Regions from separate parts of the Homo sapiens genome. Here region 1 is linked to region 2. Evidence: fine-mapped expression QTL. A gene starts in region 2. The other region holds a variant in brackets. All regions are shown on one strand. Distances are from middle to middle.

Region 1 (9,098 bases), 810 kb before region 2:
CTTAAAAATGCCCACATTCACTCCACTAAAAAGAAAAAACATAAATTCCTAAGTCTCCTTCAGGCATTCTGTGCTGTTAAATGGTTTATGATAAATATTAGTTACCCATTGATATGATTATCCCAGTAATGCTGCTGTTCCCCCCAATCCTGATATCCAAGAAGGCAAAACAAAATAGTAATTTCTGATGTCAAATAATGTTATTTGCACTGCATTCCCCTATGAATTTGGGTCTCTTTTCATTTGGAATCATTCATTTCTGGTGATACGTTTCTCTATTCTAGTCCCAGAAACACATTGTTTAACAACTGTTGTTTGGTAGTATATTTTATTTTCTGCAAGTGAAAGTCATGTCTTATTTAAATTATTCAAAATTTGCATATTTTATTATACATTTTTGGACATGATGTGGAATAATTTTGTCAAGCTAAACAAGCCGTTCTGAGGTTTTTATTGAAATTGCTTTGAATGTATAAATTAATTTACAAGTTAAAGTATTTCTTCCCATCCAGTAGAATTTTATATTCCTTTCTTTTTCCCAAAAAGAAATTCAATTTCTCCTTAATTGAATGTGTTTTAAGCCCCATGAAACAGGACGACCCTTTGTCCACATTCAGAAATCTGTCTTGGGCTGACAGCAGTAAAAATGCTTATCATGTTTTTTTCTTCCTAATCGACCTACTGATCTATTCTGGCATTGCCACGGCTTTCCAGGGAGGTCTGGGAAGCTCTCTGACAAACTGTCGATAGCCAAGTGAGATGTGACCTTGGAAGCCCCACCCCTCCATAACAGAGTGACTGATAGGGCCCCTCCCATGGTCCTCTCTCTTAAAGGAAAGAAGACAATTTGCAAACACTCAGCCTAAAGTATGCTCCTTGAGGAAAGCTAGCCAGAACTCACAGTAGCAGAATGGGTCATTTTCTTCTACCTCAAAGCAAATTCTCTTAGAGCAGCAGGAAATGAAGTGGTATTCACACTATCAATTACATCAACTGTTTACCTCATGAACTCAGCTGCAGAGACAGCCATGTTCCAGACCAAAAGAATTTAATAAGCCCATGGTAACCCTGCAGTAACAAGCACCTTGGCAAATTCAAGGTCTGAATTCACATGATTACAATCCAGCTGCCAGGAAGGTGCCATCCCATTATTGACTTATAATGCTATGTTATTTATTGGGATAATTATGCTTTTCTATCCCTCCGGGGCTCAGAATCAGAGAAAGTAACCAATGTATTCTTATTCATTCAGCATGTGAGCAAATTTCAAGTCAGAATAGATCTCTCCAAGGTCTGTTATACTGTATGGAGGCACCCTACAGGCTTTGGTCCCTACCCCTAAAGATTACAGGGGCTAACAGGGTATTGTATAAATCAGTGGGAAGTTGGTTCTTGTAAGTTCAGTGAAGCAAAATTTCTGTTTTGTCAGAGCAATTTTGCCTGGAACTCTCTCACTCACTGCTCTCAAATGTAAGCATCTTGTTCCTGCTCTCAGAGCTTCAGAGCTTCTTTATAATACTGTAGGTATGAAAATGAAATGTTTACATATTCAAAATTTGGCTATTATTTTATCATAATTTGCATATATTCTATGTTGCATATATTCTAAATAACCCTACAAAGAAATTATTATTGCAGATGAGGAAACAAAGGCTCAGAGTAACTACATGACTTATTTGGTGGACACAAGTAAATAATTCTCTTTTTCCTGAATATGATTCATTTGCTTACTTATCTGATTTCCTGCCAGGTTTCCTAAATCTTTGAAATCAGACATATTCTAGCTAGATCCCTAATGCCTCAGCCCCTGGTGTTGGCCCTGATATATAGTAAGAATTTAATGAATATCTGTTGAGTAGTGGGAAAATGTTGGGCTACAAGCCAGTAAATGATGGGATCCAATCTCAGTCCTAATAATTATAAACCTTGTGAACTTGGGCCTACTACTTTTCTCTGCACTTCATTTTCCTCATCTCTAAATTGGAGCTAATAACACCAAATCAGACCAAACTTCTCTTTCTCACAGGTTTGTAGTAAGGATTAAATAAAATTCAATATAGGAAAGAATTTTCAAATACATTATGCAGTATGGATAAAATGAAATCCATCTTCTCAAATATCTGCTTATAGAAAGGTTTAGCCTAGATTGGAAGAGACCATTATACAAGTGACATAGAGATCAGAGCTGTTTCTGTAACATCAGAGTTTACTGAGCCTGTTCCAGTGGATCCTTCTTGCTGATCACTGATCTCCAGTCTCTGAATCATTTTGCATGGTGCTATAGAAAGATCTATGAATACAGAATCAAAATATATAGGTTTAATATTAGTTTTGTCAGCAATAAGCCATGTGGTCAAGTTATTTAAATCCTGGGCTTCAGTTTTTATCTTGTTTTCTATAAAACAATGATGGTAGTAGTGGTGATAATTATGTGTATGGAGGGAGAGGGTGGAACGGGAGGGGATGGATTAAATTGTCTCTAAATGACATTGCAGCCTTATTATTATGATCAAATTAGAGTTTGGAGAGAGTGGTGTGAATAAGATGGATGCTTAGAGTTTGAGGTATATGTATGAGCACGCAGGGTCATGGATAAAGAATGAGAATCCAGAATGCCATCTCCCCTCTCCCGCTAAAAGAAAACATTTTACACACAGAGGTCGCAAGTAAACCTGCTGCAGGGTTGGACCTACTTCCACTGGGGTTGGAGTTAGTTCGAATGTGGATCTATCCCTAAGTACCTTCTAATTGGATAGCTTCCCCCATTAAAGAGCCCTTGGAGCCTTGGGCAGCCAGACCCTGCTGTCAGGGCTTTGGTTGTTGACTTCTTCAGTGTGGGGTGGGGGGAGGGGTACTCACGGGAATGTTGTCAACAGCATTCACATGATCCTCTGAGGCCAGCACAAACCATCAGACACTGTCGCTTTTGTCTTGCTCTGACCATTACTCCTGGTTGTTTTCTTTCTGAAGGTGCCCGAGGCTCCAGCCTTTTCCTCCATTTCCCTAATAAACGTTACCTAGCAGCTACAATTCTCCTGCAATACATCTGAAAAATTCATCACTTTTTTGGCAGGCTTTGAACTTTGCTGCTTGCTCAGAGGATGGGATCTAAAAATGAAACTGGCTTACTTAGCAGTGGGAATAATACAAATTTCATAAACATCAAAGTCCTATTTTTCTGTTGTATTTCACATTAGTTTCACGTGATTCACATCCATTGCCATATTTTACCTTAAGAAATGGATCTATGTGTGAAAAAAAAATGTATTCTTGTGAGGTTTGCAATGGAAAATTTTCCAACATCAACCATGTTATTGTATTTCCTTAGCACTGGTTAGTTACAGACCCTGCTGTGGCTTGATTCACATTCATGATAAGAGAAAATAAGCCTCTTAAGGCATCCTTGAACTTAAGGATGAAGAAAAATGCCTTAAGGAGACATTTCAGCTCCAGAGTACAGCTCAGAGCCACCAAATCTGTGAGAAAGCTGATGATGAAAGACAAAAATATTTTTTAGTCATGGATTTTATAAGCTAAACCCCAGG[G/T]ATTAGTTCTTGGTGGTGGAAGAATGTGAGAGGCACATTGGCAAAGAGCCTGCTGAATAATTGTAATGGCCTTCCCTATGAATAAAATAGTATTATTACTTTGTACCTTTGCTAAGGACTAGGGTCTAGGGAAAGTCAGGCAGGCAGAAAAAGATAGTTGTCTTTGACTTCAGTGGTGGAAAATATATTCCCAAAATAATCACACTGGACTATGGAGTGCCACTGGAAGAACTCTTTAAAAAACAAAACCCCCCCAACACACACACACACACACACACACACACACACACACACACACACACACACAGAGTAAATCCCTGAGGTCCAAACTCAACTGGAGCCTCAGTACTGCCCAGCATTCTTATAGCTCCTTTTAGACTGCTATCTTCCATTGTTCAGAATGGTTATTTCAAGTCTTCTCCATTTATCTCCAAGTGTCCCAAGCCACCTTCCTCAAAGACTCCCCAGAGATAACACTGGGTCCAAGTTCTTAATAAAAGTAAAAGCAGCAGGTCAGTACTCCCTTGACTTTCTGTCGTTCAACAGGCAAACTTAATTTCACTGGCACCAAGTTAGTTTACTAGGCCTGCCGTAACAAAGTGCGAACTGAGTGGCTTAAACAACAGTAACTTACTCTCTCACAGTGCTGGAGGCTAGAAGTGTCAAATCAAGGTTGATTCCTTCTGAAGGTGGTCTTGGAAAATCTGTCCCATGTCTCTCCTAGGTAGTTTGCTGACAATCTTTGGCTTTTTTTTTTTTTTCACCTTCTGTAACATCTCCTGATCTCTGCCTTCACCACATGGCTTTCTCTCTATGTGTGCATGTTAGTGTCCAAATTCCCACCCACTACTATTAAAAAAAAATTTTTTTTGAGACAAGGCCTTGCTCTTTGTTCAGGCTGGAGTACAGTGGTGCAATCATGGCTCACTGCATCCTTGACCTCCCCAGGACTCAAGAGATTCTCCCATCTCAGCTTTCTGTGTAGCTGGGACTACAGGCATGCACCACCACACCTGGAGATACATACATACATATATATATATACACACACACACACACACATATATATACACACATATATATAGTATACTATATATATGTATACATACAGGGTGTATATATGTATACTAATATATAGTATATATATAGCATATATAGAGAGTATATATATAGAGTATATATATATATAGTATGTTGTAGAGATGGGGTTTTGCCATGTTGCTCAGGCTGGTCTCAAACTCCTGGTTCAAAAGTACTGGGATTACAAGCATGAGCCACCATACCAGCCTCCCCCTTTATATTGTCTTATCTTATATTTTGAGACAGAGTCTCACCCTGTCACCTAGGCTGGAGTACAGTGCCATGATCTCGGCTCACTGTAGCCTCTGCCTCCTGGGCTCAAGTGATTCTCCTGCCTCAGCCTCCCGAGTAGCTGGGACTATAGGCATGTACCACCATGCCCAGCTAATTCTTGTATTTTTAGTAGAGATGGGGCTTCGCCGTGTTGGCTAGGCTGGTCTTGAACTCCTGGCCTCAAGAGATCTGCCCCCCTTGGCCTCCCAAAATGCTGGGGTTACAAGCATGAGCCACCATGCCTGTCCTCTTCTTTTTACAGGGATATCAAACATATTGGATTAGGGACTTACCTTACTTCAGTATAACCTCATCTTAACAATTACATCTGCAATGGCCTTATTTCCAAATAAGGTCACACTCTGAGGCAGTAGGCGTTAGGATTTCAATACATGAATTTGGGGGAGACACAGTTCAATCCATAATAAGTATCCACCTTTAACCCATGACTGATCTTTTCAAAAGTACATTTCCTTTTAGGTGTGGCTACTCCCTCCACAGATGTTCTGGAGTCTGACCATTGCTGCTACCTCAGAAACACTGTTTAATCAGGCGCCTCCTTGCTTCTCAACAACTACAGTTGTTCCTTTCATACAACTCATTCTAATCAGCATTTAACCAAGTTCATCTTTCTCCCACCTCAAGAAACAACTGCAACAACAGAGGCTTTCATGAGCCTCACATCCCATGTGAGCTTTGGCCCTGTGCTCTCTTTTCCTTTGCAGTATACATCAGCTCTCTCCACTTGCTTATAGCCTATTCACTCAGTTCACTAAAATATGGCCTCCTCGCTCCTTACTTCATTCACATTACTATTGTTAAGAACAGGGGATGACTTTGCTCTTGCTAGATGCAATGGCTCTACAGGCTTCCTCTTACCCAAGTCTTCATCATGATTTAACACTGGTGACTTATCCCAACTTCTGGAAGTCCTTACCTGTTTCAGATTCCACACTTCCATATTGCCCTTGAAACAGACTTTGCAAAAAATTTAACAATAAGAAAATTACGGCAGTAAAAGAGATCTGATCTAACCCACCCCCATCTTGCCCTTCCCTTAATTATTCTTGGGCTTTTGGGCCAAGCTAACTTTGGAAGACATTTAGATTATGGTTTAAATGATAATAGCCCTTCTCTAAAACTCAACCATCAACCATCTTTGCAAAGCTAATGAAGTCCACCAGGCTACAAGGAAGAGAGGACCCTGATTCTGCTAAGGTATGTGCACTTATCACCAGATATTCCTGCAGATAACACCACTACTGCAGACTGGCCTTTTGAGGTACGTTTTCAGGAATTTTTTTTTGCATGTCTGACATCCCTGGCTCCACCTGGCTCCATGTGGGGATGGCTCCATGTGGACTCCCCAACCTTTCCCTTGTGGCCACACCCAGGAGCAATTCAGCTCAGATGAACAGCTTTGACTCCCTATGACTTCACCTCCAACACAACCAGTCATCAGCAAGCACCCATTATGTGACCACTCCCACTCCCTTCCCCAAATTGCCTTTGAAAACGACAGGACTTCAGGGGGATTGCTTTGAGTATTAACTGTCTCCCCTGTGACATGGCTGGCCTCATGTCAATTAAACTTTCTTTACTGCAATGCTGTGGTCTTTGTTTGTGCAGCAGGCAGCAAGAACCCCTTGGGCAGTTCCATTCTCATACCATGATTTTCTTTTTACCTCGCTGGCTGATACATCACAGTCTTCTTTGCTGGTTCCTTTTTGTGAATCCTTTAAAATGTCAGAGGCCCATCTTCAATCCTGTAGACTCTCCTCTTCTGTGATGTCTTCCAACCTCAAAGCTCTAATGACTATCTGTATGCTCTTACCCTCAATTATATTTCAAGCTAGGATTTCTCTCCTGAGGTCCAGACCTATGTGAATAAAACCAGTGGACATCTTCAGATAGATATCCACAGACAGCTTAAACTCAACTGTTCCAAACTGAATTCATCACAGGTCATCAAAATCTATTTCTCCATCTATGCCCAATATCTCAATGGCACTGTTATTTTACCTTGTGTCTCAGCCAGAAAACATGGATTTTTATTTACGTTTTTCTTTCCCACAAACCACATCCAATTACACCGATTCTTTGGACTCTCTCTTATCTTTTGAAATTCTCCAATTCTCTTCCTGGCAGTCCTTATTTCAGGCTATAAGCATCCTTTTCCCAGGCAACTGCATCAGCCTCCTAACATGTCTCCCTTTCTCTGATCTTGCCATCTATGATGCATTGTCCACACTGCAGTCAGAGCAACCTTTCTCATAATCTGTCCTATGCATGACTCCTTGGTAGCCCTGCTCCTTAGCCTAATGGAGAGCTCCAACCATTCTGAAGCTCTTGCCGGTCCCCAGTGCCTCATGATTTCCCTCACCCCACAGCCTTTATGCACATTGCTGTCACAGGAATGTCCATTCTTCACTCTTTTATCCTGTACTACCAACCCTCCAATTGGAAAACTCATATCCCCAAAACTGGCATGAAAAGTACTCCTAAATTTTCCCATGCCAGCAGGTTACTACTAGCTTTCCTAACTTTTATCACATCATCTATTATATATATATATTCTATATGTATTAACATATTCCTTGAGGACTAGGAATTTGCAATGTGTAGTTAAGAAATAGCTTATCTCTCACTGCACAGCACAGAGGCTGATATGTAGTAGTTGTTCAATACATGACTGTTTTGTTTTGTTTCTAGAGACACTGTGTCACCCAGGCTGGAGTGCAAAGGCACCATAGCTCACTGCAGCCTTGAACTCCTGGGCTCAAGCAATCCCCTCACCTTAGCCTCCCAAGTTGCTGGGTCTACAGGCATGTACCACCACATGCAGCTAATTTTTTAAATTTTTAAATTTTTTGTAGAGACAGGGTCTCACTTTGTTGCCCAGGCTGGTCTTAAACTCCTGGGTGCAGGCTATAGTCCAATTTAGCCTCCCAAAGTGCTGGGATTATAGGTGTGAGCCACCGCATCCCTCCATAAATGTCTATTTAATGAATGAATAAATGAAATGAATAAATACATGAATAAATGATCAAGCCTTCAGAGATATTATTAAAACAAGCCATATTTGACTTAAATAGCAAAACTGGAGGTGGTACATTTTGAAACCCCAAACAAATGTAATCAAATACAGATAAGCTAAAAAAAAGAATCAGAAAGACCCCCAAATGCTTAAGTACATGGATAACTTTTAAGAACTCATTTTGTTGACAGTTTTAAAATACCACCTAGGTGTTTGTAAAGAATATTCAAGGTCAGATTTGGAAGAAAATATAAACTCCTCTTCATTTGCACATTGATTAAAAAATAGTCTTCCTACTGTTTCAGGTAGTCAAAAGCACTACAAAACAGACTTATTGGGATCTGTGTGTAATACAAATGAAGTCAATGGCAGATTTATACTGCTAGGAGAAGCACATTAAAGGCTGCTTCTGTCACTGTCTCTGAAGGAAGCCTCTAGACTCTCCCACAGGGTTCAGCCTAGCATAATAAAATAGCATAAAGAGTATGAACTTCTAGTTCTTCTATTTGTAGTATTACAAGGTAATATTGAACCTTCATTGAACAGAGGAGGAGGCATTTCTTAAGTCTAAAACTTAATAATAGCAAATCCTGTCAACCATCAGAATATATCCAAAATCTAGCTAGTTTTCACTACCTCTTCAGCTACCCCTTTTGTCTCCAATCACCAGAATTTCTTGCCTAGATTATTCTAAGGTCTCCTGACATCTGCCCTTGCACTTTGACTTTCTGTTCTTAACATAATAGCTAAGGAGATCCTGCCCAACAAAAGTGAAAGCATTTTACTCCGCTGTATAATTCAAAATAAAAACCAAAATGCTTATAATGGGCTTGAACATCTTACAAGATCAGCCTCCCCATCCCCAGCCATGAACACTCTGACCTCACTTCCCCTCCCTCCTTCCTCAGTCACTCAATTCTAGCCACACTGGCTTCTTTGATTTCTTTAAGCACTCCTGGCATGCTCCTGCCTCAGGGCTTCTGGAATTCCTGTTCCCCCAAACGGAAGCATTTTTCCCAAACATCTCCATGCCTTGCTAATTTGCCTCCTCCACGTCTTTACTGTAATGATTACTTTTCTGCGGCATCTTCCCTGTCCACTTTATTTTAAATTACAATCCTCTGTCACCATTAGCACTCTCTGTTTGCCTTTTTTGCCTTATT
Region 2 (9,098 bases):
GCAACACAAAAATAATGGGAAAAAATCATCAGTGATATGATACAAGAGGTAATTCCGATGTGCCACCATCCTATTCTAACCAGTTTCTGTGGTCAGAAGTTACCTCTGTGCTGGATTCAAACCACCAGCCCGGGGTCCTGCCCCTTCATGACCCACATAATCCATATGATGGCCCCTTGAAGTTTGCCATGTATTTCTTTTCAGAGTTGGCTTCCTGCTTCTGCCTTCAGTCCTAGATGTTCTCACCTCCTCGCTCACCATTCCAGATAGTTTTTGTGTTACCAACGGAATGTATATCCAATTATATTGTGTGCCCCCAACTTTGTTCCCCACCTTGCCCCCTGCAAAGACTGATGTCCAAATGTCCATAATTTTCAACTTATTGTTTAAGTTTGCAACCTAGGATGCTTAATACAAGTAATCATAAAATGGTATCTCTGTAAGGTGACCCATTTATACAGATCTTCTCTAAGAAACGGACCTCATGGTTTTTTAGGAAGAAGGCCTTGAGTGGGGAACCTATCGTTGCAATTAACAACTGATATTGCAGTATTACTATATATCTACATAGTAAGCACGATATGCCAGTATATTATACTACGCATATATACTATGCTAAGCATTTTGCATGCATTGATTCATTTAGTTCTCACAACACCCCTATAATGGCCATACTAATTATTATCTACACTTTAAAAGTGAAGAAACTGAGACTCAGAAAAAGTAACTTACTCCTGGGTACATGGCTAGTAAGTACAAGAGCCATATTTATCTGACTCCAGAATCCTTACTCTTATCCATTATGTGATCCATAAGGGCATTGATCTCTGAGTGAAATTGGGAGGAGGCGCTTTGGGGGGACCAAAAGCAGAAAGACTAGGGAACCAAAATCAACAAGATCTACTTATCAATTTTGCTTAGAGTCAGCCCTATTTGAAGTAGAACCTTGTTCCCATTATGTACCAATAGATTATCTGCCATTTTGCATTGTGAAAAGGTACCCTCCATTATCCAGGCTAATCTAGTTGACTGTAGAATGCTGTACACAGACATTACAATGACAGACAACTAATTCAATCTTCTCTGCTAGAGAGATGCTACTGTTAACATCCTTTCAACTTTTTCCCTATAGCTTTTGATGCAGGGCACTTCACATATGCCACAACTATTCCCTCCTACAGTATCTAGAGCAAGGAAGTAATTGAGAATTACTGGGGAGAGAGAGAGGGTGGGAAGGAAAAGAAAGGATTATAAAATGAGGTAAAAACAAAATACTACCAAAAAAAAATTTTTTTTTTTAGAAAGAAAGGAAACCAGAACAGGGTGACTAATTGCCTGCTAACCTGTGATTCAGGGAGAAGTGAATGTTTATGCTCCATTACTAAACAAAGAAAATAACTTGATCATACACTAGAAATCATATGTTTAAACAGTCACAGTGGAGTTTTCCTGTGTCAACAGAATAGAGATATTAAGTATTTCCTATAGAAGTGAGACCTTACTGCTTGTCACCTATTCAGGGTCTGTAGTAACATTATTCATCACTAAGCAAAAATCTAATTATTTTTAGATTCCACATCCTCCTCTAAGTCCTTTAAAATCTTCATCTATTTACTAAGACTTTTATGAACCTGGGACAAAAATAATGCCAGCCCCTACTGAAGAGTAATCAGACATTTCTATGTGATAATCAATAAGACTCCAGTTTTAGTGAAATGGAAGCTGGGAAGCAGTCTAGCAAACCCTTTGAGGTCAATCAGGAATTAATCTAAACAGGGAGTACAAGGTTGGATGAAATGTAGCAGAAATTGTGTCTCACTGAAGTAATAGTGTTATGTGTTAGGAGGTTTGGAAGTAATACTTAATTGAAAAACTGTTTTAAGCTAAAAGAGAGTGGCAAGATCCAAAGTAATACACTATTAAAAATATTTAAAAGCAAAGGATCCGTAAAATATACTAAGAGAAGAGCCTAATTCCCTCATTCCAAATCCAGTTTCTTATTCTAACTAATGTGCAGGAAACAGGAAAAGGAGCAGGGAGGAAGGAAAGTATCTGAAGAATTGCCAGAGTAAAAAATCTCATAATGAAATTTTGCTCATTCTTGGAGAAATGAAGTAGAATTAGATGCTTCAGTGGTGGTGAATTCCAGAATCTGGGTAGCTTCCAGTAAATGAAGCTTTTCTATAACGTCAAATGCAAAAGCTATCTGGGATATCAACATAATCAGCTTGAGCTTTTAAATTCCTATTTCCTCATACCAAATTGTTTGAAACCTTTAAGATAAAAACTTCAATGAACTAGTGTTCCAAGCTTTTAATATTTTCGTCCTTTAGCAAGCATGTCAGATTAATCTTCAAATTGCAATGGGCAGAAAGGACCTTCAACCAAATTATTAAGCCCATGTCTCTCTCAAAGCATGTTAATAATGTAAGCAGTTTCATTGGCTATTAAGATTTTTAACTTTCTTAATTCTCCACTGTATTACTGTTTTTTAAGGCTGGGAGGCAGGGGATCAAGAATGTCATTCCATCCTGAAAACAAGGGATGTTATGTTATCTTTATACTCACTTAACACCTAGCACACTGTCAGGCACCCTGTAGGCATTTAACATACTTTTGGAATAAGTTGATGTAATGGCCTAGGAAGAGCATGGAAATCTTTCTGAGGACAGGTGAGTCCAAATCCTGGCACTGCTGGGCAACAAAGACCATCTCCAGAATTAGAGTTATCTATCGCGGTAGAACAGGAATTTGCACGTGTGTCTTCAAAGTGGCATCAAGAGGATTGACTGTTTCCTGAGCTGCCATCCAAAAGCCACTTAGGGAGGGATTATACTCGTCTCCAGCTTCACCACGCCTGGAAAACTCGTGCCTTGCCTCTCTACTCCCCCTTCCTTTTCCTGGGTTTGGGTTTACACTCCCAAAACTTAAGTTCACAATTCTACAAGGCTGGTCTAACCCAGACCGCGATCCGCTCCCCATTTCAGGGCGTTTTTCCAGCGTCCACTGGGAGGGAGGCCAGGCCGTGCTAGGCAACAGGCAGGATCCACACGGTGGCTCCGCACATCTTAGAGGGTGAAGGCAGAGGGGTGGCGGGAAGCGGTGGGGGCTGGGGGAAGAACGAGTTCAGGACCTAGGCACTATCCGGAGGTTTCTCATCCCTCCCCAAAGCCACGGCGCCAACCGCTGAAGACGCCAGGAAACCATCGGCAGGGGCAGGGAGCGCGGGGTCGCTCTGGGTCAGGACTGAGGAAGAGGGATGGGGGGTGGGGGGGAAGAACAGAGACCCAGCGGGCGACAGTACCTGGTGTGGCTGTGGTTGCGGGGACAGTCCTTCTTCTCCATGATGGCCGGCACGCAGTTGGTGAGCTCCGTCCAGTCGGCGTGCAGCCCGCAGCTCCAGCCGGTGGAGAAGCGGGAGAAGAGCCACGTCTCCTTCTTGCCAGGCCGGTGGCAGGTGCACTTCTTCTGACCCGCTTTGCAGCTACAAGGCTGCTCCAGCCGGATGTTCTTCACCAGGTGCCGGCCGAAAGTGGTGCCCCCCGTCTTCTGGATGTGGAGGAACACGATCACGTCGCGCCCTTTGATGTTGAAATCCACGAAGCGGGTCAGGTCCTTCAGGCTGAAGTTGAAGCGCGGCACGAATCGGGGCAGGGAGCCGTTTTCCGGGGCCTCGGGGTCCGGCTCGTCTTCCTCCTCCTCTTCCTCCCCCTCCCGGGGGTCTCCGGGCTCCTCGTCCTCCTCCTCCGGCGCCGCGGCCCCCCGAGGTCCCTCGGGGGGCCCCCGGGGCGGCGGGGGCAACTGGGGCCGCCGCTCCCACTCCTCCGGCGGCGCCTGAGCCCGGCGGGCGGGACCCGGGACGGCGGGCGGGCCGGCCTCCCCCGCGCGGGGCTGCTCCCCGAAGTTGGTGCAGGAGCTGGTGCAGGAGGGGGACACGTACTGGTACATGATGACCACGAAGAGGAGAGTGAGCACCGGCGTCAGCAGCCACTTGTTGAACCTTTCATCCATGGTCCCGCTCTCAGGCCGGCAGGCGAAGCGGCGGCGGCGGCGGCGGCAGGGCGGACGGGCGCCCGCTCGGAAGTTTCGCGGACTCCGGGGCGCGGCTCGGAGCCCGCCGTTCCTCCATGCCCCTGACGCCGAGGCGTGTGGCTGGCTGGCGGCCCCGCGGCCCTCGGGGCTTGAGGAGCCGGGGCCTGCGAGCCGGGCGGGGGAGGCGGGCGCCGGCGCGCTCGGCTGCGGCTGCGGCGTGGGGCGCCCTGCGCTCCCGGGTGCGCCCGGGCCGGCCCGCTCCCTGCTCCCGCCCCGGCGCGGCTCTCTCAGGCGACGCGCGGCATCCCGCCGGCGGCTTGCAGGCGCTCAGGCGCTGGGGAGCGGGGTTCGGGTCCTGGACCTGCCGCGCGCAGCCGGGCAGCCGGGTAGCTGCGGCCGCGAGCGCCGGGGCTGCATGAGGCTCGCCAGGGCGCCGGCCAAGGGCGAAGGCGCGGCCCGCTCCCGCCGCCCCGGCCGGCCGCGGGCACCGCGCCCGGCACGCGCGCCCGGCGCCTTTGCCGGCAGGTCGCGGGGCTGTGGAGCCGCGAGGGCTGACGGCGCTCGCCGCAAGTTTGCAGAGCGGCCCCCGCAGCGCAGCGGCAGCGGGCGAGGCGCCTCTGCGGAGACGCCTCTCCCGGCGAGTCGCACTGCCGCTCCGGGCTGTCCGCCCAGGCGCAGGCACGCAGACACACTCGCACACACAGGCTGGCACCGCCACAACCCGCCAGCCGGTGTGACAGGAGCCCTGCTACCCGCAGCAAAAACCTGCCCTAGGTACGGAGCATGCGCCAAAGCCTCCCCCAGCCCCGGAGGAGTTTCCAGGGGAGGAGTCCGCTGCTCCGCGGGGCTCGGAGGAGGCAGCTGGGGGTGGGAATCCCTTCGGCCGGGAGCAAGGAGAGATTTGGCAGAAAGGCAAAGGTGGGGCGAGAGGAGGCCCCGAGGTAAGCGTCGCTGGCGTTGATCTGACACCTTAAAATGGGCAGCTTCTCTGTCTGGTAGTGGCCGGCCTTATTTTCAGGAATAACACCTGCACACTCCCGGGAACACTCACTAGACCAGACTTTACACGGGTTGGCAGTTCCCTTCTCAGCAGGGGAACGTGGCTCCAGACTGCTGTGAATTTCTACCCAAGACATTCTAACTGGTGTTCGAGTTTTATGGTGGTCCTCCCTTAATAACAAACTTGGTGCGTCCAACTATACAACTGTATTCAACCAGCATCAATTAACCATTAAGCGCCTAACTGTGTATCAGGCTCTATGTTCAATACACACTTTCTTTCAGCACTAGACAGTCCAGCCCTCAACCATGCAGTACTTAGAACATAAAAAGGAGTTTAGGGATCACCTCCTAAAAAAATCATTCTACTAATAGACGTTGAACTCCTAAATGTTCAAGATTTATTCCTTCCCAACAATGGTGGAAGATAACACTTAAGCTTGCCTATATTTCATAAGCCCTAATTTGTATGCAGATGTTTTTTGGAAACTTTATTTTTCAAACATCTAGATGTTGCATTTAGTATTACCCCAGAACTAAATCTTTGCTCAATAACAACTTCTGTTTTTCAGATAGTGAAAAGATATACGATCAAATTGTTGTAACTGCCCTACCACAGTCCCTAGACCTGCTCGACCTATTTTCCGAGTGGAGAGTGGCAATGTGTTAAAGGCAATGTGTGAGGACAATGCAGTGTGATTCCCTGGCCCAGACCAATGTGTCCCTCCCAGCTACACTACCGTATTCCACAGGTGTGCTATAATATTTCATAGCAGCCCACCGTCCCATCTGGCCTTTTTATGAATCCATGCACTTGTTTCTTCCTGAGACACTCTGTCGATGTCATCTATTTATCAGGGTGTCCCCTCTGCAGCCATCAGTGAAGATCCAGGGCTCTTTCAGGGATGCTAAAGTTTGCCCATAGGATACTATTTTCCTTGTTTAGACAGGTGGAATTCTTCTCAATAAAACTTCCCTCCTCTATTTCCTTTCCCGTTTTCAACTCTTTAAACAACTCCAACCCTTGCCTTTCCTAATATGTAGGAGGCTATATCAGTAGAAAAGGTGTTGGGTGAGATGAATCAGCTTCTTTAAAGCTTATTTGATTCTATTTCTTTTTCTCTCACTTAAGTTTGAAATCCTATTAATGGCATCACACCCCACTCCACAGCAAGAAACTGTGATAAAACAAAAGCCCAACAATTATTTTCTGAATGTGTCTGCTTAATATACACATACCTCTGCTTTAGTTAAGTAAAACATCATTATACCTTTTTATATCACCTTATTGAAGAAGCTTCTCATTTCCTATAAAATTGCTTGATATCACATGGATAAACATCACCTTATTAGCTACCAAAATGGATAACCAGAATGCTAGTGGTAGTTTGTATAGTGGAAAGCACTCTCCTAGCCATTATTTCATTTGCTTCTCAGAACAACACTCTAAGGAGATAAGAGAAGTATAATATCCCATTTCAGAGATGAGGAAACTGAAGCAAGGAAAGTTAGGTGAAAGCAAAGCCAAATTAGAAACTGCTAACATCCCGAAAATACAGTCACTGAAGAAGTTCAACAAACATCAACAACAGAGCCCATAATTTCCTCTCTCCCCTCTTGAGACCATTTGAGTCAAGAGGCAAGAAGAGACAACAGAATTGCAATAGAATAATTAAATTATGTTATCTCTCCTCCTGACTTTATAGGCAAAGCTGAGCAATTCTACATCCTGCAGTATTTTGTCACTTAGTCTATTAGTTTCAAGAAAGAGGGAAAAATAACAATAACAATCATAAAATGATTATATAATTGTTAAATCACTTAGGAGAATTGTAAAAATAAAATGTACGACAAACATGTAGCAGCTACATTGCTAACAAAACGTGTATTTCCATAAATAAGTGTACCTTTAACACTTTTCAAAGAACATTATCTCCGAAAATCTCGTTTTATTTTCAGTAAAATAGCTACTGAAGTGACTCCATTTCCTTGAGGTAACCACAAGGAAAACAATGCATAGAATCAAGGCAATTACACAGACAATTCAGGCATTTACTCAAAAATTCATTTTTTAATAATAGGTAACTTTGGTCGTGTAAATACAGTCTGTCCCAGGTGTGGTCTCCCTATTACAGTTGTGGAACTTGGTGTGAACCTAATCAAAGCTCTTAAATCACACAATAAACAGCCTTCCTTATCTACAAGGGCAGACCTCACATTCAGGCAAAAATGAATAGAAACTTTCTAAAATTGAACGCTCTCCAGGTAAAAAGGCAAAACATACTTGCATTCAGTCTACTATAGTTACTCCACGATGACACCAGCTGGCAATTGTTTCTCCCTAACATATAGCAGCTACTATGATTCCCACACAAATTATTAAAATAATAAAAATAATGTTTTCAAAGAGCTTTCTTCCACTTCCTTTGCCGGTCTAGCAATGAGCTTAACACTATCTGTGAAGCAATTTGTTCACCTAATTTTATGCCTTAATAAGCTTTACTACAATTATTTTCTTGCCTGATTCGTTCTCTGCCTTGACTTTAGTATACTTCCTCCCTGTTCTTCTGCAATATTCTCAAACCTGTTAACAACATCGCACTCCCCCAGGATTCAAACTTTTGATTAGAACAGTCCCCATTTAATCAAGTTCAATTGGGAAATAAAATTGCATCTCAACTTCTCCATTTTCCCTTTGGTGCCAGAAACTGCCTTGAGAATGTTGAAGAAACCCTGGAGAGATTAACAATCCAAATGATCACAGAGGATAGTTTTGGATCCCCTACATTTGCACAGAGGAAGAGAGATTTGAATGCCCCTCAATAGAGATGAAAATAAAACAGATAATGTAAGTCATTGGCAGCATGACTCTCTCCTACAAGAATGGAAAGTGCTCTTATATACTGAAATGACTTTTGTTTTTCAGTTTTGTAAACAATCTTTCTCCCCACAAAAGCCCCTGGGGTAAGCAGTTTTGCAAATAACCAGCAAAGTGACAGCTTTCTTTTTCCTCAGGAAGTTAAGCAGACAGAGCCCACATAGTTAGAACCAATGGCAGAAAGAATTGGGATATATACTGATTGTGATATATTCCGGTTCACTATATGATTGTAACTTTGGGGCAACCATGACCCTACATACCACTTTCCATAAAGTTCTATTTATCTGAACAGTTCATTCTTTGCCTTACTGTGTAACATCCACCATAGATAGCTGCCTATGAGAATGAATGGAAACCATCTGTATGTATAATGTATTCATTAACTCAGTATAGTGTAAGTAGATGCACTAATCTTTTCCCAATAGATATTCTTTTATTTCTTTGATAAGGACTTGTTAAGCATTTGCTATGTACTGTGTACTCTTCTGAATGCTTTAGATATGCTATTAAACAAGAATAAGGATCCTGTCGTCATGTAGCTTATAGTCTAACAGTGGAAAAATAAATTATAAAGAAGTAAACAAGATTCATTCATTTGATCCAAAGATATATATTGAGCCCCTGCTGTATGCCATGTAGTTTTACGTATTTGGTATGCACTGATGAACAATAAAGACAATAATTTTTACCCTCAAAAATTTAAATTCCGGCAGGGTAAAACAGTAGGGAAGAAGTCAGAGAGACAATGGGAGGAAGGTTATGTCAGGCCTTGTGGGCCATTGTGAGAATTTGACTCTGAGAAATGAGGAGCCACTGCAGAACAGTTTTAAAGGGATCCTTTCGAGTGTTTTATTGTCAACTGTAAAAGGAAAAACACAGAAGCAGGAAAACTGGTTAAGTGGCTATTCCAGTAATCATGTGAGATTGATGGTGGCCCAGACCAAGACAGGGTGGTTACAGAGGTGGTTGGAAGAGATCAGATTGCCTGCATTTTCAAGACAGAGCCATCAGAGAGAGTTTCCATACAGATTGAATGTGGGATAAAAGAGGAAGGGAGGAGTCAAAGATGATGCCAAAGTTTGGGGCCTAAACAACTGAAAGGATGGAGTTGTCATCAAAAGGGATGTCAACTGAGATCATTACAAGTGCTAAGAGGGGACATAGCAGGGTGATATGACAAAGAATT

Alleles and levels. Positions count from the first base shown, and alleles are read on the strand shown. Sizes are in standard deviations (SD) of each study's normalised expression.
For the expression in esophagus mucosa of the gene that starts at base 4,767 in region 2, allele G in region 1 goes with a higher level than allele T (small effect, 0.37 SD a copy in GTEx).

The links.
Region 1: its variant is fine-mapped to the expression of HS6ST3 in esophagus mucosa (GTEx, PIP 0.98).

What each region holds. Positions count from the first base shown.
Region 1 is chr13:96,892,839-96,901,936 of GRCh38, reverse strand. No RefSeq gene overlaps it. Among named protein-coding and RNA genes, the nearest start is that of LINC00359, 87 kb to the left of the region's middle. The variant G/T (reference allele first, on the strand shown) is at 3,546.
Region 2 is chr13:96,085,776-96,094,873 of GRCh38, reverse strand. HS6ST3 (heparan sulfate 6-O-sulfotransferase 3) reads right to left here and starts at 4,767. Exons shown (of 2, transcript NM_153456.4): 1 at 3,305-4,767. The coding sequence starts at 4,011. RefSeq lists enhancers at 4,443-4,943, 4,944-5,444.